Linked DNA regions of Homo sapiens. The protein of the gene in region 3 purifies or fractionates together with the protein of the main gene of each other region. This does not show direct contact. Each region holds a gene or a part of one and is shown on either strand. Other genes may lie near its edges.

What was found. Proteins that work in one complex are often made in the same cells at the same time.
Region 1: the proteins of RSRP1 (region 3) and C1QBP purify together in Homo sapiens (affinity purification with mass spectrometry; 5 studies listed by BioGRID and IntAct, with this or other methods). This does not show direct contact.
Region 2: the proteins of RSRP1 (region 3) and PSME3IP1 purify together in Homo sapiens (affinity purification with mass spectrometry; 4 studies listed by BioGRID and IntAct, with this or other methods). This does not show direct contact.

Annotation. Positions count from the first base shown.
Region 1 is NC_000017.11:5,432,277-5,436,155, forward strand, and holds the end of C1QBP (complement component 1 Q subcomponent-binding protein, mitochondrial precursor), read right to left. Parts: intron 2,691-3,879; coding exon 2,597-2,690; intron 1,492-2,596; coding exon 1,393-1,491; intron 1,140-1,392; coding exon 1,017-1,139; intron 889-1,016; coding exon 739-888; 3' UTR 501-738; downstream 1-500.
Region 2 is NC_000016.10:57,176,040-57,183,039, reverse strand, and holds part of PSME3IP1 (PSME3-interacting protein), read left to right. Parts: intron 1-489; exon of another isoform or gene 490-1,423; coding exon of another isoform or gene 1,424-1,486; intron 1,487-4,187; exon of another isoform or gene 4,188-4,538; intron 4,539-5,886; exon of another isoform or gene 5,887-7,000. UniProt on the Homo sapiens protein: Promotes the association of the proteasome activator complex subunit PSME3 with the 20S proteasome and regulates its activity.
Region 3 is NC_000001.11:25,243,476-25,253,257, reverse strand, and holds the start of RSRP1 (arginine/serine-rich protein 1), read left to right. Parts: upstream 1-5,803; 5' UTR 5,804-5,949; intron 5,950-6,228; 5' UTR 6,229-6,294; coding exon 6,295-6,814; intron 6,815-7,956; coding exon 7,957-8,108; exon of another isoform or gene 8,109-9,624; coding exon 9,625-9,708; intron 9,709-9,782.

The DNA of each region.
Region 1 (3,879 bases), on a different chromosome or scaffold from region 3:
ATTAGTTCATCTACAGGATTTGATCTTAGCTTGAAGACTATTGATGCTGATGGTTCCCAGGGCAGTTGTTTGAAGGCTGCAGGACAGAGGTCCAGCAATGCCAAAGAGGGGCGGTCATCATGACAAACTACACTACTGAACTAATTGAAACTGGACTCAGGAGACCTCATCTAATGTGTAGAATTCTCATTGATTACAACTTTTATCAGATATCTTTCATGACTAGAATACAATTTAAGCTAATTATTTTCCTGTTTAAACCTAGGCCTGTGATACTTGGGCTGTGATCCTCTAGAGCCAGCTTGGACTCACATCATTCTATGGGGTTGAAGACAACTCATTCCCTCTGAGGAGCCTTGTACATACAAGCCTTTTATTTATAACTTATTTTGTATTGAAACTTTTAAACAATACTGAAGAAAAAAAAACTTTTCCGACATCTGTTCTTGGTCTTTTGTGACGCAGGTTGAAGGGGGAGGAATAGAAAAAGACAAACTGCCTTGGAGGAGATAAACCAATTTTATGTCTATCATGTTATACAAAAATCTAGAAATAATAGATTTGTACAGAAAAAAATGATAATAAATGAGAACACAAAACATATAATTTAAATTTGGTATTTTTTCCCCCATGATATTAGGATGATAATCATTTCAAAGCACATGTCTAGCTTCAGAGTAGGATTTGTTCACTGGCCAAAGCCTGCCATGAAACTATGGCTTTCAGCATCTGTCTGCTCTACTGGCTCTTGACAAAACTCTTGAGGTCTTCAAGAAAAGTAATGTACTCCTGGTGCTCCAGGGCTGTGCTGAGCTCCACCAGCTCATCTGCAAAAGTGTTGTCCACCCCTCGGTCGGCAAGGAAATCCATTAGGTGGTCATATAAGGCCTGCAAAGAACAATATTTACTAGTTAAAAAAAAATCTGTAATGAACATTAAAATGCTTTTTTCTCCCCTTGAACTAGGACCCTTCCTTCCAAGGCCCAAAAGGTTCCCCCACCTTATCAAGCACTCACCCAGTCCAAGGAATCTGTGTTGAGTGTATAATTAGTATCCTTCCATTCAGACTCGCCAGTGGACTGAAAGCTAACTTCCCTGATAGAGAAGATGTCACTCTCAGCCTCGTCTTCTTGTCCAACCTGAGAAGAAACAATATTGGGAAACTGAAGGGTTCTCCAGGACAAGCTAGACTCAGGGGAAGAAAGGGGGCCACTGACAGCATGAAACTCATCAGGTTTTAACCCTCTTCCCTCACTCCCCACCTCTCTCCCCCTGCTGGGCTGGTCTAAGCTAGAAAAGTGTTTAAATTTCTGCTAAAATAGGGACAGGAAGTTCCCAAGGGACACACTGTTCCCCAGGGGTGCCAAGAGGCTAGCACTCCATCCTGCATACCTCATCCTCTGGATAATGACAGTCCAACACAAGGGCCTTCTTGCCATCATCATTCTTTATAACTTCAACCACGAAATTGGGAGTTGATGTCAGTTCAGGCTGGGGAAACAAGAAGTCAATACATGCTGCTGCTGGAAGGAGATGGATGGCTGGATCAAGGATCTCTGTTCAGAGTGTCTGATGGCCACCACTATTAGGATATTATGTAGCCATTTGAATAGTCTTATGCCATACTATTCCCAAATGAAGAGCTTGATCTCACTTCTGTTGGCACCCTGCTTGGTTAAATAACACACTGGGTTTTCAGTTAAGAAATGTGGATACCAGCCTCAGCTATGTGCCAATTAACTGAGTTTATATCAGTCCCTTAACATTCCAAGCCTTTTCCTCCACCCGTACACTGCAAAGCTTTCCTAAAGTTTCAAGATCTCTTTCCAGCTTGACTGTTCCAGGAGTCTTCATAAGGGACCAGGGTCAAAGGCTGGGGAACCTGGCCATCCTTATGGCTGAATAACAGCAGCAGCTTTTCCTCTGATGCGGAGCTCTGGGAGCAGACTGGGTCCAACGTCAGGGAGATGCTAGTTGGGGTGGCTGGGAAAGCAGCACACCAGAGAGCTGCGCCGTCCACACCAGGTCATGACCCAACACTGTACTGATGGCTCTTGGGCAGAATGTCTAGGGACTCTGTGGCCCTCATACTGGCTGGTTACTAGGCTGGGCACAGCACTTCCTGAAATGTTTGAAGAGTAGGCATGATCCAGTTAAAGTCTCTTATGCCCCTGCCATTCTCTCTCTCTTTTTTTTTTTTTTTTTTTTTTGAGACAGAGTCTTGCTCTGTCGCCAGGCTGGAGTGCAGTGGTGTGATCTTGGCTCACCGCAACCTCTGCCTCCCGGGTTCAAGCGATTCTCCTGCCTCAGCCTCCCGAGTAGCTGGGATTACAGGGACCTGCCACCATGCCCAGCTAATTTTTGTATTTTTAGTAGAGACGGGGTTTCACCATGTTGGCCAGGATGGTCTCGATCTCTTGACCTCGTGATCTGCCCGTCTCGGCCTCCCAAAGTGCTGGGATTATAGGCGTGAGCCATGCGACTGGACTTAGAGGAATTTTTTTTTTTTGAAAGACCAAAGAAAAACGCTCCTCCTCTAAGCCCCAGGCACAGCCTGTCAGAACTGAGGTAAAAGCTGATTATAGTATTAGCTTACCTCCTGTTCTTCAACCTTCTGCCCTTGCGAGGGTTCCTCCTCACCATCAAATGTTGGTGGGATGCTGTTGTTAATGTTGAAAGTGACCGTGATTCTAAAACGGCAAGGGAAAACAGACAAGGCAAAACAGACAAGGCATGGTTTTAACCGAGCAGGTTAACACATAAACATGGAAATCTGCTACAGTTAAAAAGGCGTATTGAAACAATGTCTCTGTCCTAGCTGGCTGAATTATATGCAGAACTTCAAACTAGGCTGGGTGCCTACATCCAATCCTGAGTGACTCAGCAGGTCTGAAGTGTGCCTACCATGTACCAGCTGCTGGAAGCCAAAGCTGGCCTCAGTTTATCTCAGCCAAACAAGTCATGCATGGGTTACTCCCAACAGGGCCAGTACCCCAGGGCTCACTGCCATGTGCTGACTGGGCATCTCATGGCCACAGCCAGCTGACACTGCCCACCCTGGTCTTTCCAGGGAACCCTTGGTCAAAGTAAGGACCTGAGAGGCTGGTGAGATGGAACAGAAGCCCCTTTAAGAGACTTTCCCCGTCAGAAAATTTGCCCTGCAAGGAAAGGAAGAAGCGATGGAGGGTGCCTCTGCTAAACACCGAGAGCAGCCCTGGAACGGGGAAGGGAATGCCTCACAAAGAACAAGGGCTGTAGTAGAGACTCATCCCTTAGAGTACTTGTGGGAAGTTTCATAATCACAAAGCAGGCCAGACACACCAACTAGTGACAATTTTAAGGTGCAAGAATCCACACCTGACAAATCATGTTCCAAAGTTTGAGTCAAAATTCTTGGGACATAAGGTTTAGAACCAAAACTGCTGGGCTATGCAACTCTGGCAGGCACCATTCCACACAAGAGTACATGAAGGCTGGGCGCAGTGGCTCACGCCTGTAATCCCAGCACTTTGGGAGGCCGAGGTGGGCAGATCACGAGGTCAAGAGATCGAGACCATCCTGGCCAACACGATGAAACTCCATCTCTACTAAAAAATACAAAAAAAAAAAAAAAAAAAAAATTAGCTGGGCGTGGTGGTACGCGCCTGTAATCCCAGCTACTCAGGAGGCTGAGGCAGGAGAATTGCTTGAACCTGGGAGGTGGAGGTTGCAGTGAGCCGAGATCACGCCACTGCTCTCCAGCCTGGAGACACAGCAAGACTCTGTCAGAAAAAAAAAAAAAAAAAAAAGAGTACATGAAGTGCCGCCCTCCACTTGTGCTAACTAGCTGCTCTGCCAGGAAGCCACCTTTCCATGGCAACAGAGGCAGTCTGAGGTTGA
Region 2 (7,000 bases), on a different chromosome or scaffold from region 3:
GCTGTGTGCCAACCTTATGTCTTTTACTGAATGAGTGTAAGTTCCTCAGTTGCCTGTTTAGTACATAGCATTGTATCTTGCACATAATAGGTTCTCGGTAAATATTTGCTTCAAAAATCTTTTTTCTTTGAGATGGAGTCTCGCCCACTTCGCGCAGGCTGGAGTGCAGTGGCGCGATCTCGGCTCACTACAACCTCCGCCTCCCGGGTTCAAGCAACTCTCCTTCCTCAGCCTCCCGAGTAGCTGGGATTACAGGCATGTGCTACTACGCCTGGCTAATTTTCATATTTTTAGTAGAGACGGAGTTTCACCATGTTGGTCAGGCTGGTCTCGAACTTCTGACCTCAGGTGATCCACCTGCCTCAGTCTCCCAGAGTGCTAGGGTTACAGGCATGAGCCACTGCGCCAAAAAAAAAAAAAAAAAAAATCTTAGTTGGCCTTGTCTGGTTATTGTAATGCAAAGTTTTTTTTTTTTTTTTTTTTTTTTTAAGGGAAATGGGTATCTCCTTATGTTGCCCGGGCTGGCCTTGAACTCCTAGGCTCAAGCAGTCCTCCAGTCTCAGCCTCCTGAGTAACTGGGACTGCGTTTTTTTGTTTTATTTTGTTTTTAATTTGGTCTTGAAGTGGAGTTATATAGGGTGGGGGGAGGGAGGATGGAGTATGACTTGAGGTGTGGGTTAGGTTCTGAAGCGAGCCTAGATGACAAAATAGCTTACAAGCAAAGCTACCCTTGAAATCTCAGGGAGGCAGCATGTTAATTGTAGGAATACCAGTGTTGCAGAACTCTGACATGGCCAGTGTGATATTGTAAAATACATATTTGGCCTTCATCCCTGTCTCCTGTGGCATATGACTCCTATAATCCTTGAAATCTCCAAAATGATTAGTGTCTTTTTATATGCTAAGGAGCTGACTGATGGCTGGCAGCCCCTAAGTAACTTTAGCATGGGGGCTGGTCACTTGAAAGACCCAGGCAGGATTAGAGGGTTGGGACCTTCAACCAATGTCCAACCTCTGGGGAGAGGAGAAGGCAGACGAGCTGATGACCACCAGCGTCACTGGTTTAATTAGTCATGTCTAAGTAATGAAGCTTCCATAAAAATCCAAAAGACTGGGATTGGGGAGCTTCTGGATAGGTGGACATGAGAGGTTCCTGGATGATGGTGCCCCAGAGAGTGCATGGAAGCTCTGTGCCCTTCCCACATGCCTTGCCCTATGCATTGCTTCATCTGTATCCTTTGTAATATGCTTTTATAATAAACCAGTATATGTAAGTAAAGTGTTCCTCTAAGTTCCTCTAAGTTCTGTGAATTGGTCTAGCAAATTAATAGAACCTAAGGAGGGGGTCATGGGAACCCTGATTAATAGCCAGTTGGTTAGAACTACAGGTAAAACAACCTGATTCTTGTGGTTGGTATCTAAAATGGAGGCTAGTCTTGTGGGACTCACCCCTCAACCTATGGGATCTGACGCGGTCTCCATCCAGGTAGGTAGTGTCAGAATTGAACTGAATTAGAGGACACCCAGCTGGTTGGTGTCTGCTACAGAATTGGTTGGTTGCTTGGTGTGTGGGGACATATCCCTCACAGAATTATACTGTGTTGATTGTTGAGTGAGAGAATAGCAAAAATGCTTTGGTTTGGTTTGGGTTTTTTTTTTCTCTATATCCTCAGGCAAGTTTTATTTCGGCTTTGGAAAAAACTGCTGTTTTTCTTCCTGTGAGCCCCAGATGAAGTTGTTGGTTTGTATTTAGGAGTCACAATATGTAAAAAATACAATGAATACAATCATTCATGCATAGTGAGGGAAGTATTTATATTCAGAGAGGTGCATGTGAATGAGGATCAGCTAAGGGAACCGATATTTAAATTAGTTATCTTTCTTCTAGTGTGTATAGGTGAATTCAAGATAAATGCACATTTGAGACCCTGCCCTTGTGCTATGGAAAGATAAATAAATCAATACTTTTTTTTTAACTTCTTTTTTTTCCCCCTCGCCAGGCAAGGTCGGTCTTGTGCTGTTGCCCAGGCTGTAGTGCAATGGCCCTCATAGCTCACTGTAGCCTGGAACTCCTTGGCTGAAGCCTTCCTCCCACTTCAGCCTCCTAAGTAGTGCACCATCACACCTGGCTAATTTTTAAATATTTTTGTAGAGAGAGAGTCTCACTGTGTTGCCCAGGCTGGTCTTAAATTCCTGGCCTTAAGTGATGCTCCCAGCTTGGCCTCCCACAGCTTTGGGACTGCAGGCATGAGCCACTGTGCCTAGCCTGTTTGTCTGTTTGTTTGTTTGTTTGTTTTTAATAGAGTTGGGGTCTCACCATCTTGCCCAGGCAGGTCTTGAACTCCTGGGCTCAAACAATCCTGCCTTGGCCTCCCAAAGTGCTCAGATTGCAGGTGTGAGCTAGTGCACCAGGCCTTAATTTCTTTTCTTTTTTTTTTTTCTTTTTCTGAGACGGAGTCTTGCTCTATTGCCCAGGCTGGAGTGCAGCGGCGTGAAATCTCAGTTCACTGCAACCTTCGCCTCCTGGGTTCAAGCGATTCTCCTGCCTCAGCCTCCCAGGTAGCTGGCATTACAGGCACATGTCACCACAGCCAGCTAATTTTTGTATTTTTAGTAGAAATGGGGTTTCACCCTGTTGGCCAGGCTGGTCTTGAACTCCTGACCTCAAGCGATCCTCCTGCCTCAGCCTCCCAAAGTGCTAGGATTACAGGTGTGAGCCACCATGCCTGGCTGAATTTCTTATTGTATGTGTTTCATAGATGCCTGAAAGATTATTGCAAAGCTGAATTTTTTATTGTATGTGTTTCATAGATGCCTGAAAGGTTATTGCAAATTGCTCCTTATGATAAACATTTAAAATATGGATTAAATTTCTTTTTCTGTGGTTTAGTTTTTAGATTCTTTTAGTCTCCTTTGCTACCGGAATATGTTAATTAAGCTTTGGTGTTAGAAGATTGACTTCACTTTGCCTAGTAATAAATACTAACAGCGGGCTCTCTGTTAGTAGTTGTTGTTCTCTAAATAAATTTTATGATATAGGAAAAGTCAGCTAAATTTTTAAAAATCTAAATAACTGTATCTTGGTAGAAGTGCCTTCTGGCCAGAAATAAGTCTTTATTTGAAATATAGATGAGTTAGCCAGATGGCAAATTCCTCTTAGTTGCTGTCCTGCATTTTGAAGTACAGTGTGACTTGAACATCAGAGTAAAAAATGTTGGAAAGCAATAATCTATATTTACTCACAAAAGGAAATGGATTGACCTATTGCTTTTGCTACTGAAAGTGAAGCCTTAAAACAACAGAACACAGAAACCTGATTCTGGTGTGTTTTAACATGTACAATCTAATTAATTTTAGAATTAGAAGGATATGGTGGCCAGTGATGTAAACACTCAAGTAGTTTGCCATCACATAATTCAATTCCATAGGAAACCAGATCTCATTACTTTGTGTCATGGCACTAGCTAAATGGAGTCATTTTTCAAGTTAGGAATAGCAATTATTTGGGGAGCAACAATGTAAGTTTTGTATTTTAAAACATGTGTAGTGTGCTATGTAAGAACTGAGCCCATTTTGTCCCACCACCCTGGAAATTAAATGGGACGGTCTCCAATGTAAACCCAGTAGTTCAGTGTTACCAGTTACTTTGGCTTGAAATATAAGAACTTTGTTTTCTTGACGGTCAGGCAGATTTGAAAACCACGTTCTTTATTTGTGCCAATTTGGACTCTAAGTTTGGTGGACAAAGTGAATTTTGAAATGGTTTTAGTTTTCCATGAATTCCCTATTTGAAGAAATTGAATAAATCCTTTAAAAAATAATGTAATGTTTAGTTTGATAATTAAACTTGAGTCACTTTGGAAAACGTGAGTAAAGGAAAGCTGACAGCATTTGTTTACTCTTTCTAAAGTGGAACACAGTAAGGACAAAGTAAGCATTCCTAATGTAAGTCCTCTGCATTCCTACAGGGCTCTTCACAGTTAGAGCCCGTATCCCTGATATCCCTGGGCTGTTTGTCTTTTGATTTGTTTTTAATTACCCTAGCAAACAAAAGGGAAAAAGAAGAGACTTGTGAAAATTTACCTAGACAATAGGAATTAGAAGTCAACACAATCTAATTTTCTAGCTTCTTTGTCTACTTCCAGCAGGTCAGTAAGTTACAGGTACTTATCACCTCTTTCTTGCAGAATAAACAGCCATTGGACTCTTCAAACAAAAACGCTGTCTCCATCAAGTACTGCTTTCGCAGGATAAGTGACCATTTTTAATCAGTTGAAATTAACGGAAAGTAGCAGTTATTTTTGAAAGATGACATCAATTATATAATATAGTAAAGAGATTTAATTTTTAGTCCTTTGTTTCTTACTGCACAAATTGTATGGCGTTTGAATAGAATTCCCATGATACTGACACTTCAGCAAATACTTGCTTGATGGCTACCAATCTCTATAACTTACATTGCACAGTACCTAGGAATATTCATGTGAGTTCATTCCTCCCTGCTCAGATTCTTCAGCTCCTCGTGGTTGGTTTATTCAGTAAGTATTTGAATACCTAATATATGCCAGACACTGTGCTAATAATAATAAGCACTGTGGAGACAAAGAGCTGTTGGAACAGTCACAGATGATAAAACACAAAGAATAAGGGCTGTAGTAGAGTTATGAATGATCATAGCAGGAACACAAAGGAAGGAAATACATATTAACTACTCTAGGAGGTCTTGGAAAGCTTCATAAAGGAGATGGTCTTTAGTCTGATTCTGGGCGGTTGGAGCAGCAGTTTGCATCGGGTGAAAAGAAAGCAAGGGCATTCCTGGCAGAGGGAACAGCCTGAGCAAAGCCATGCAGAGAATGAAGACCTACAGAAGAAAATGCTAATTTGAAAAAAGATGCATAAAGCAGTCTATGTTTTAGTCTAGTCTTTTTAAACTTACAGAAATTTATTACTATGTGTGTCCATCTAACTTGGCTTATTTTCTTTATTTGGGGATCAAGGGAATGCCAGAATTATGATATTAGTTTTATTACTAATTAATTAATTTATTTATTGAGACAGGGTCTCACTCTGTTGCCCAGGCTAGAGCGCAGTGGTGCGATCATGGGTCACTGCAGCCTTAGCCTCCTGGAGTAAATGATCCTCCCACCTCAGCCTGTGAGTAGCTGGGACTACAGGCACACATCACCATGCCTGGCTAGTTTTTTAAATTTTTTGTAGAGATGGGGGGTCTCACTTTGTTGCCCAGGCTGGTCCTCCTGCCTTGGCCTCCCAAAGTGTTGGGATTATAGGCATGAGCCACCATGCCCAGCCTGAATTAAGATATTAGTTTTAAAGAGCAGACTTTTGTAAGTGTGCATTAGTTTTGACAGTGTGACTGTGTTTTCAGGACACCAACCCACTGAGAGCTGATGAGAAATACATTTCTTGTATTTTTCTTTCCCCTGCAACGCTTGCCTTTAAATTTTTTTTTTAAATATGCATTTACTTTATTTCTTATTTTCATTAACCAACTGATTTCTGGTTTTGTCCCTGTGTATAAAAGATTGTAGGCCGGGCACAGTGGCTCATGCCTATAACCCCAGCACTTTGGCAGGCTGAGGTGGGCAGATTGTATTGCTTGAGTCCAGGAGTTTGAGACCAGCCTGGGCAACATGGTGAAACCCTGTTTCACGAAAAAAAAAAAAAAAAAAATTAGCCAGGTGTAGTGGTGCATGCCTGTAGTCCCAGCTATTCGGGAGGCTGAGGCATGAGAACTGCTTGAGCCCAGGAGGCTCTCTGAATTCTTATTTAGGTAGAAATGTAAAATTCTAGGGTTTGTTTTTATTGTTGTTGTTGTTGTTTTTGGCATATTGGAAGATTTTTAAATTTTCTCTTTTAAAAATATAGGCCGGGTGCAGTGGCTCACACCTGTAATCCCAACACTTTGGGAGGCCAAGGCCGGTGGATCACCTGAGGTCAGGAGTTCGAGACCAGCCTGGCCAACATAATGAAAGCCCATCTTTACTAAAAATACAAAAATTAGCCGGGCATGGTAGCACACACCTGTAATCCCAGCTACTCAGGAGGCTGAGGCAGGAGAATCGCTTGAATCTGGGAAGCGGAGGTTGCAGTGAGCCAAGATCGTGCCACTGCACTCCGGCCTGGGCGGCAGAGCGAGACTCTGTCTTAAAAAAAAAAAATTATATATATATAACAAGAATGAAGAGAGACATTTACTGGGACACCAATGGCATTGCCGTATCCTAGTATTTATTTCCCAGGTTTAAATCATATCTAATCTGATAAATTCATTTCCTTCAGACATGATTATTTTTCTCCATCTTATAAAATTAAAGTAACTAGGAATGTTTGGCTCAGAAAAGCAACAAATTAGGAGGAACATGGGAATTGTCTTCAAACAACTGAAGTATGGTCATGTTAGAAAAGATTTGATTCTTTTTGTATAGTCCCAGTGGATTGAACCTATGTATTGAATTTATAGTAAAACAGATTTCAGTTCAGTTTAAGGAAGAACTATCCTAACAGTCAAATCTGCTTAGAGAGGGAGTTGGCTGCCTAGGAAGGGAATGCAGTGGTCCCTCTTGAAGTTTTAATATATGAGTTGGATGACCTTCTCCTGGGTGTGTATGGTAAATTCAGATGTCGAGTGGATTATCATATTAGGTGGGCTATAAGGACTATCCCACCCTGAATTATTTACTAGGAAAAATGGGTGATGGAAAGAAACCAGATGATTAATACAGGATGAGAAAGGAGACACGGTTAATAGGGGATAAGAAAGGGGGAAATTGAGGGTTCGGAATGTCTCTCCCAACCATTAGAGCCCTAGAAAGTTCACGTTTTCTCTGCCAGAGACATTTAAGAAATTGTTGGCTCTGGTTTCATAAGAGGTTGTTCTGTAGAACTTGAGGAATTTTTGGCATTTTCACAGAGACTGAACAGTTCTGCTTCAGTAATGAGCCTCTGGCTGGAGTCATTGAGTGCTGCTAAATCAGAAGTG
Region 3 (9,782 bases):
TAAGTTTCAACTTGTTTAGAACGAGCCCATATTCATCAAAAATTCTGTATGCACCGATGTGGTGGCTCATGCCTGTAATCCCAGCAGTTTGGGAAGCCAAAGTGGACAGATCCCCTGAAGTCAAGAGGTCGAGACCAGCCTGGCCAACATGGTGAAACCCCTTCTTGTGGAGTAAAAGTTAAATATTAAATTTGAACTCAATTGGACTTGAACACAAGGAATGGTTACGTGCCAGAAATCTGTCCCTGGGCACTTGCTCAGGAACGGATGGACATACTGATTGTTCTTGATAAATACATCATCTGCCTCGAGGCAATAAACAAAACCTTGAAAATAGGCTGACCTTTCCGTGTTCCTTGAGTCCAATGACAAAAGGCCCTTGTGCCTAGGCCTCATGCCAAAAAGAATACTATAAAAAGGTCAGGCCAGGTGCGATGGCTCATGCCTGTAATCCCAGCACTTTGGGAGGCCAAGGTGGGCGGATCACCTGAGGTCAGAGGTTCGAGACCAGCCTGGCCAACATGGTGAAACCCCCATCCTACTAAAAATACCAAAAATTAGCTGGGCGTAGTTGCTGGCGCCTGTAATCCCAGCTACTCAGGAGACTCAGACAGGAGAATCCCTTGAACCCAGGAGGCGGAGGTTGCAGTGAGCCGAGATCGTGCCATTGCACTCCAGCCTGGGCAACAAGAGTGAAACTCCGTCTCAAAAAAAAAAAAAAAAAAGGTCAGGGTCCCAGACTACGCTGAAGCTCCACGAGACCTCTCCTTCTCTGTGCATGGACCAGTGGCTGACTCTGGAGCCTAGGCTGTTGCTTCCCGGTCTGGTGATGAATCCTCCATTGTCTGGTGAGTGTATATATGCTGATTGTTTTTTTTTCCTCACTGCTATTTGCTCAATGCACCTTCTATTTTATACTTAAATGAACCTAAAGTAGTTTACAATCTGCACTTATGTGTGAGTGCTGTGTGTTTGCTTGTACCTGTGCACTCCCCACACAGAACATGTCTCTACTAAAAAAAAAAAAATTAGCCAGCTGTGGTGCATGTGCCTGTAATCCCTGCTACTTGGGAGGCTGAGGCACGAGAATCACTTGAACCTGGGAGAGGGAGGTTGCAGTGAACCGAGATCATGCCACTGCACTCCAGCCTGAGTGAGAGAGTGAGACTCTGTCTCACAAAACAACAACAGCAACAAAAATTAGCCAGGCGTGGTGGCGTGCACCTGTACTCCCAGCTGCTTGGGAGGCTGGGGCATGGGAATCACTTGAACCAGGGAGGCAGAGGTGGCAGTAAGTCGAGATTGCACCACTGCACTTCAGTCTGGGCAAGAGAGCGAGACTCTGTCTCAAAAAAAAAAAAAAAATCTATATGTGGGTATATTTGACATGTCTTGAAGAAAACTGTGGAAGGGCACTCGTTAAACTGTTAACATTGGTTATCTCTAAGATATGAGGAAGAAGGATGGAGACCTCTTTTAGAGGATTCTATACCTCTAGGGAATGATCGTTAGCTTGTATACATCTTTGGATTCCTTTACCTGATAAAAAATTAGTTTTGTCATTAAAATTAACAAAAATATTAACTTTGAGCCGGGCGCAGTGGCTCACGCCTGTAATCCCAGCACTTTGGGAGGTTGAGGTGGGCGGATCACCTGAGGTTGGGAGTTGGAGATCAGCCTGACCAACATGGAGAAACCCCGTCTCTACTAAAAATACAAAATAAGCCAGGCATGATGGCACAAGCCTGTAATCCCAGCTACTCAGGAGGCTGAGGCAGGAGAATTGCTTGAATCCGGGAGGCAGAGGTTGCAGTAAGCCAAGATCAAGCCATTGCACTGCAGCCTGGGCAACAGAGTGAAACTCCGTCTCAAAAAAGAAAAAAAAAAGGAAAACTATAAATTATACTGAATGTTTTATTTTCCTATTGCTGTGGTAATAAATAACCATAATGTTAGTGGCTTAAAACAACCTAAATTTAATATCTCATAGTTCTATAGGTGAGGAGTCTCACCAGATTAAAGTCAAGGTGTCAGTCACATTTTGTTTCTTTTTGGAGGCTCTAGGGGAAGATCCCCAACACTAGCTCATCCATGTGTTGGCCGAATTCAGTTCTATGATGTGGGATTGAGGTCTGTTTCCTGGCTGTCAGCTGGAAGCCACCATTAGCCCCTAGAGTTCTTTCCCTGCCCTTGCACATAAGCCCCTACATTTCTTTCTTTCTTTTTTTTTTTTAATTATTTTTTTCTTTGAGTTGGAGTCTCGCTGTGTTGCCCAGGCTGAAGTGCAGTGGTGTGATCTCAGCTCACTGCAACCTCCGCCTCCTGGATTCAAGTGATTCTCTTGCCTCAGCCTCCTGAGTAGCTGGGATTACAGGCGGACGCCACCTCGCCCGGCTAATTTTTGTGTTTTTAGTAGAGATGGGGTTTCACCAAGTTGACCAGGCTGGTCTCAAATGCCTGACCTGGTGATCCGCCTGCCTTGGCCTCCCAAAGTGCTGGGATTACAGGCGTGAGCCACCGCGCCTGGCCCGCCCCTACATTTCAGAAGCAGCAACAGGGCATGGAATTCTTCTCATGCTTTGACTCTCTCCTGAGATTAGATTGGGCCTACCCAGATACTTCAGAATAATCTCATCTCCAGATCCTTAACCTTAATTACATCTGCATAATTCCTTTTGTCACCTTAAGGTAACATATTCACAGGTTCCAGGAAATTAGGGAATGGACATGTTTGGGAGGCGATTGGTTTGCCAACCATAATGAAGGACATAAACAAAAAACCAACTTAAATGGCACATTTAAAACTTGTTGTGATACCCTACCTTGTTTAAACCTGAGTGACTCTCTCCTAGCAGACAGAGCCGGACAGACTCCATTTTAGTTTCTTTGCTTGCAGCCCTCTTTATCCCCCTAAGGGAGTAACTAGTGCAAGCTGACTCCAAGCACATCCAGGAATTCACCTGCTGATAAGATATTGAGGCAAGCTGTACCAGCAGCTCCTGGGAATGTGCTCGGTGGAAGGTACCTAAAGCCCCCGCATTTATCTCTTAGTGATAGTTTAAGCCCCTGTACCTGGAACTGTTTATTTTTTGTAACTGCTTCTATAACCAATTAACTTTTTTAACTTTTTGCCTATTCTGCTTCTGTAAAACTGCTTCAGTTAAACCCCCCTCCCCTATTTAGACCTTAGTATAAAAGAAAATCTAGCCCCTTCTTCAGGGCCGAGAGAATTTTGAGCGCTAGCTGTCTCCCGGTTGCCGGCTAATAAAGGACTCCACAATTTGTCTCCAAGTGTGGCGTTTCTCTATCTCGCTTGGTTACAACATTGTCACATTCTTAGATGGGAAGATTTGCTATTGTAAAGATGTTATTTCTGCCTACATTAGCCTACAAATTCGGTGCTAGATGTTCTAATAACTAAAGTTGAATTTTTTTCATTAGGTGAGTGGATAGATGCTCAGAGAATATATACTGTTTAGAGAAATAAAGGAAGGTGACTTTGCAGACTTTAACTCAGGTAGACCGCGTATGTTTTTGAGACAAATACACCAGCATTCTGCACGAGGGCAAAGTAATGTTTCCCACTGTTTCCAAAATCCTGTTAATATCCAGGATTTGCTGGGCACAGTGGCTCACGCCTGTAATCCCAGCACTTTGGGAGGCCGAGGCAGGCAGATCACTTGAGGTCAGGAGTTCAAGACCAGCCTGGCCAACATGGTGAAAACCCATCTCTACTAAAAATACAAAAAAAATTAGCTGGGCATGATGGTGCACGTCTGTAAACCCAGATGCTCGGGAGACTGAGGCACAAGAATTGTGTGAACCCAGTACGCAGAGGTTGCAGTGAGCCCAAGATCACACCACTGCATTCCAGCCTGGGCGCCAAAGCGAGACTGTCTTAAAAAAAAAAAATTAGGATTTTTCTGGTCACCATTTTTTAGGCACACATTGACTGATACTTTGAACTGTCTACGGAGACTTGTTCCATCCTTTCCTATTCATAACCAAGAGCTCAAAACTGTATCGTAAGTATACTTTAGTTCCCCAACACATCATTTTTATACTTGTCAAATGTGAAACTCGTGTTGTTATTATTATTATTTGTTTCCAGACGGAGTTTTGCTCCTGTTGCCCAGGTTGGGTTGCAGTGTTGCAATCTCAGCTCACTGCAACCTCCGCCTCTCAGGTTCAAGCAATTCTCCTGCCTCAGCCTCCCGAGTAGCTGGGATTACAGGCGCCCGCCACCATGTCAAGCTAATTTTTGCATTTTTAGTAGAGATGGGGTTTTGCCATGTTGGCCAGGCTGATCTCGAACTCCTGATCTTAGGTGATCTTCCCGCTTCGGCCTCCCAAAGTGCTGGAATTACAAGCGTGAGCCACCGCGACTGGCCTCGTGTTATTTTTCTGTCCACTCACACAGCTTTATGAGAACTTTCGGCAAAGGTTTCTGATGGATGGGCATTGTATCTTCACTGTCTTGAGATTTAGAGAAGAAACTGTTTAAGAACTACTTCCATCATGATGCATCCTCAGGAGATGTGGATGAACTGCGGAGATGTGGGGTGAAGATGAACAAGAGATGAGTGAGTTTGTGTCTCCCTCTAAAGAAAGTGGCTTTTGTCAAAATGTACTTGTAAAGAAGTGTATAGGCTGGGCAAAGTGGCTCACGCCTGTAATCCCAAAACTTCAGGAGGCTGAGGCGGAAGAATCGCTTGAGCCCAGGAGTTGGAGACCAGCCTGGGCAACACAGTTAGATCCCGTGGGTAAAAAAGTGCAAAAATTAGCATGGTGGTGCATGCCTGTAGTTCCAGCTCTTCGGGAGCCTGGGCTGCAGTGAGCCGTGATGGCCCCACCACACTCCAGCCTGGGCGAGTGAGACCCTGTCTCAAAAAAAAAAAAAAAAAAAAAGGCAATTAACCCACAATTTTCAAGGCAATTGTTATGCTTTATTACAAGAAGTGTTTGAAATGCATCCCATTTGTAGATCCCTAGAAGTAAAATAGTCACCTTTGTTTACACTCACACCAAACACAGTTTTTGGAAGAGATATCGCAGACTTCATTATTATCCCCAGATTAAAGGTCAGTTTTGAGTCTTTTTATTTTGTCTCGACCTTATTACCTTCCTAGCCAAAACATGGAAGTAAAACATCTTTTCTACGTTAATACTGCATTTCCAGGGGTCTTGGGGTGTTCCGGGGGAGGGTGAGGTCCCCTCTCTGTCATGGCGGGGTGTGGACGCGGTCGCCTTCTCCTGGCGCCGCGGTACCTAGGACAGGAGGAAGAGGCCAGGAAGGGTCCAGGGAGGCTCAGGCCGGGTCTGCGACTTGCCGGTGGGTGGCGGCAACGACCCTGTGGGCACCAGCCCGTCAGACGGCCCCAGCTCCGAGCCCGGCTGCGAGCCCTCTCCAGCCTGCAGCCGCTCCTCTCCCGGCCCTACTCCCCGCCCGGCACTGACGTCCAGCCCCGCCCGTGCAGTGAGGCCAGAGCCTGGTGTAGCCCCACGCGGGGCCGTTCCATCTTCGAAGTTTTCTGGTGACTGGGTCGGTCCCGCAATTATCTCAGATCAGGGGGGAAGCCAAGGGCAACGGGACACCCTGATGTATCAAACACCTCCCCCTGGAGCCCCATCGCGCATGCGCACCCTGGAGGCAAGCGCTCGAGGCACAGGGCGCGGCTTGGGGAGGGAGGAGGCAGGGCGGTGGTTGGGCAAGAGAAGAGCCGCGCCCACCACGGAACATCTCTGCGCATGCGCCGGGGGCCAGCTTCTGGTACTTTTGACGCGTCTGCTAACGTAGTCCCTCAGTGCGCATCCGGACGTAGGAGGTGGAGGTTGTGGAATTCGCCGTTCGAAAGCAGGGACTAAAAGCCCCACTTCGTCTTACGTTCCGAAAGGAAGGCGTCTGTTGAGCCTTTCTCTCAGTCGTGAGGGAGGCGTCGACGGCGTGCGGTAAGTTTTCTGCTGACGGGGTCTCTCAGGACCACCGCAGTGGTCTCTCAGGAGTGAGGGACGGGAAACGTGCCGGGCCCCGCGTTTGGGGAACGCAGCGTTTCGCTTCAAGGCCGCGGCCTCAGGGCGCCGAGCGGGGTTTCTAGGGCTCGGTTCCTGTCGCGGCGGTCGCCGCCCGCGCCGTGGCTCCGCCTCCCGGAGGTTCCCCGACTGTGGCTTCCGGGTGGCCAGGCGCCGGCTTCCGCGACTCGACTTGTTTTTTCTCTCTTGGTTTTTTAGGAAGTCCTGAGTTGAGGCTTGCGGGATCCTTTCCGGAGAAAGCGCAGGCTAAAGCCGCAGGTGAAGATGTCCAACTACGTGAACGACATGTGGCCGGGCTCGCCGCAGGAGAAGGATTCGCCCTCGACCTCGCGGTCGGGCGGGTCCAGCCGGCTGTCGTCGCGGTCTAGGAGCCGCTCTTTTTCCAGAAGCTCTCGGTCCCATTCCCGCGTCTCGAGCCGGTTTTCGTCCAGGAGTCGGAGGAGCAAGTCCAGGTCCCGTTCCCGAAGGCGCCACCAGCGGAAGTACAGGCGCTACTCGCGGTCATACTCGCGGAGCCGGTCGCGATCCCGCAGCCGCCGTTACCGAGAGAGGCGCTACGGGTTCACCAGGAGATACTACCGGTCTCCTTCGCGGTACCGGTCCCGGTCCCGTAGCAGGTCGCGCTCTCGGGGAAGGTCGTACTGCGGAAGGGCGTACGCGATCGCGCGGGGACAGCGCTACTACGGCTTTGGTCGCACAGTGTACCCGGAGGAGCACAGCAGATGGAGGGACAGATCCAGGACGAGGTCGCGGAGCAGAACCCCCTTTCGCTTAAGTGAAAAAGGTGGGTGGGTCATTTACCTTTCCATTTGTGGTAATGTATGGTGGCAGTATATGAGTAGGCTAGGGAACCAACGTTGCTGTGTAGTTTCAATATTAGTTCCTTTAGTGCCCGAAATCTTTTTGGAGGAAAGAGGGAGGACATTACCTGTATTTAAGTGGACAGCATTCTCTTTAGGGTTAAAGGTCAACTGGATGTTAAATGGCTCAGGATGTAGGGAACTTTTTTTCCTATTGGCTGACTGTTCTTAGTGGGTGGAGCCTTTTAAATGTTATGATTAAGTTAAAGGTTCTAAGTTAACGTGATTGGGAAGAACAATATCAAAACACGCCTTCTTTTAGTTGACATTATTACTGAATAAAATTGGATTGTCGAGTATCCTAAGTGACCTAGGAGGCCGGGCGCGGCGGCTCACCTCTGTAATCCCAGCACTTGGGGAGGCGGAGGCGGAGGCGGGTGGGTCACTTGAGGCCAGGCGTTCCATACCAGCCTGGCCAACATAGCTCACTATCTAGTAAAAGTACAAAAATTAGCCGGGGGTGGTGGTAGAAATACACTTTAGTAGTGTATCAGTATTGGTTCAGTGGTTGTGATAATTATATAAAGAATCTACAGCAGAAAAACCTGGTTTTCAGAAATACATCTTTGAAGAGAAAGCAAAATAATATCACTATTAGCTAGAGAAAATTAAGTACAACAAAAAGACAAAATAATAGGACGCTCAGGCCTTTAGTCAAGAAAACAAAACTAATTGTTGAGATAATTTAAGAATTTTATTCTTTTCAGCAAGAAATGAGCTGGAGAATAGAATTTTCAGTGAATAAAGTTACACAGTTGTCCCTCTGTTCACTCGGGGGATTGGTGCCAGGATGCATATGGAACCCTCGCGCACACTTGGGGTTTACAGTCTCTCAAACACTGTGGTACTTTCTATCTGCATTTAGTAAGGGGGAGAAAAAACAAGTATAAAGTGGACCAGCGCAGCTACTAGTGTTCAAGGGCAACCTTAGTTTACCTATTATAAAACAAGTGACTTAATATATTTAATACCACAAAATAACATATTTATTGTGTAATTCTGAGTTCTCTTGGGAAATAACTACCAGATTAATGAGTATTTTAAAATCTCTCTCTTTTTTTTTTAGATCGAATGGAGCTGTTAGAAATAGCAAAAACCAATGCAGCGAAAGCTCTAGGAACAACCAACATTGACTTGCCAGCTAGTCTCAGAACTGTTCCTTCAGCCAAAGAAACAAGCCGTGGAATAGGTGTATCAAGTAATGGTGCAAAGCCTGAAGTAAGTATTCTAGGTTTGTCGGAACAAAACTTTCAGAAAGCCAACTGTCAAATCTGATTAGCCACTTATATCTTAGACTATACTTTTTGGGAAGTCTAGAGATGTATATAATGTGCTAAATTCAAAGTAGCAAATCTGAAGATAGGCAATGTCAAACCCATGAAAATGGGAGATTAATGAGCTTTATTTGGCCGTGCATGGTGCCTCATGCCTGTAATGAGGCAGATGGCTTGAGTCCAGGAGTTCAAGACTAGCCTGGGCAATGTGGCAAAACCGCGTGTTTACAAAAAATACAAAAATTAGCCAGGCATGGTGGTGCATGCCTGTAGTCCCAGCTGTTTGGGAGGCTGAGGCAGGAGGATCTTTGAGCCTAGGATGCTAAGGTTGCAGTGAGCCAAGATGGCACCATTGCACTCTAGCCTGGGCAGCAGAGCGAGACCCTGTCTCAAAAAATACATTTATTTTTTTCATTTTCAGTTAACAGTGTACTCTTATAACACCGTTATTAGCTGGTACTTTGGTGATTTCTATTACTAGTTTTTCTAAGCTATTTACAGAGTGTTTGTAGCTTTCATTTGCAGCATTATGTTCCCACAAATTCTGTACTCAGCATATACAGTATAGTTTATCTGCTCTATTTCTGTCTTATAGAAATCATGAATGTGGTCTGCAGACATTGATGAAGAAAATCTGTTGGTAATTGATACATGGGCTAAAGCATCAGAGGTTTAATTTGAAGTTTATGTTCACACACTGAAAACTTAGTTTTTTTGTTGGTAGATCCATGTGCATGCTAGAATTTGGGACAGGCACTATTTGCATAAAGTATTAAAGTCAATTTTTAAACTAAGCAAAGGTACACGTTGTAACGGTGGGGCATCTGTGAAAAAGATGTCCCTTTCATAATATATGCAATATATTCCAGATGTTTTGAGAGATTACAGAAGAGGAGGCCTGCTTCACTTGCAGATAAGTTTATTATAATTCTCCAGAAATGTGCAGGATGTGCATTAGCAAATTGCACTGTACTTTTCACTCCAGCCTGGGTGACAGAGCAAGACTCCCGTCTCGGGGGCTTAAAAAAAAAAAATGCTGTATCTAAATGAATCTGTGTAATTGGGCCCAGATGTGGGTTTGCTCAGTATTAGTAGACAAGGTCTTTGTTCAGACGATTAGGTGCCTAACTGGCAAATGCCTTAGTTTCTTAAAACGTATTTTCTGATGTGGCTTTACATTTCAAAAGTGAACTTGATTCAACCTGAGAAAACTGATTAAAAAATTAGTTTAAATTTGCCAGCAGGGAAGTAAAATAATTATGGGAAGAGTGTCTTAAGCCTAATATTAAATCAGTTTTGTTAAGGGGAAAACTCAATAGTTCTGTTACTTAGGCTGTTAGATCCAAGTTGATTTTTGTGTCTACAGCTAAATTTTGTTTACAATTAGGCTATTTTTTAATATAGGATTTAGAAACCAAGGGTATGTGTTTTAAAATTACACTTTTTCTTAACCTGTCTAGCTGTCGGAAAAGGTAACAGAAGATGGAACTCGAAATCCCAATGAAAAACCTACCCAGCAAAGAAGCATAGCTTTTAGCTCTAATGTAAGTATATCCAGGCATTGAACACTCAAAAATTGGATTTAGGATGTATTTTTGCATCTTTGTGTTTTTATCTT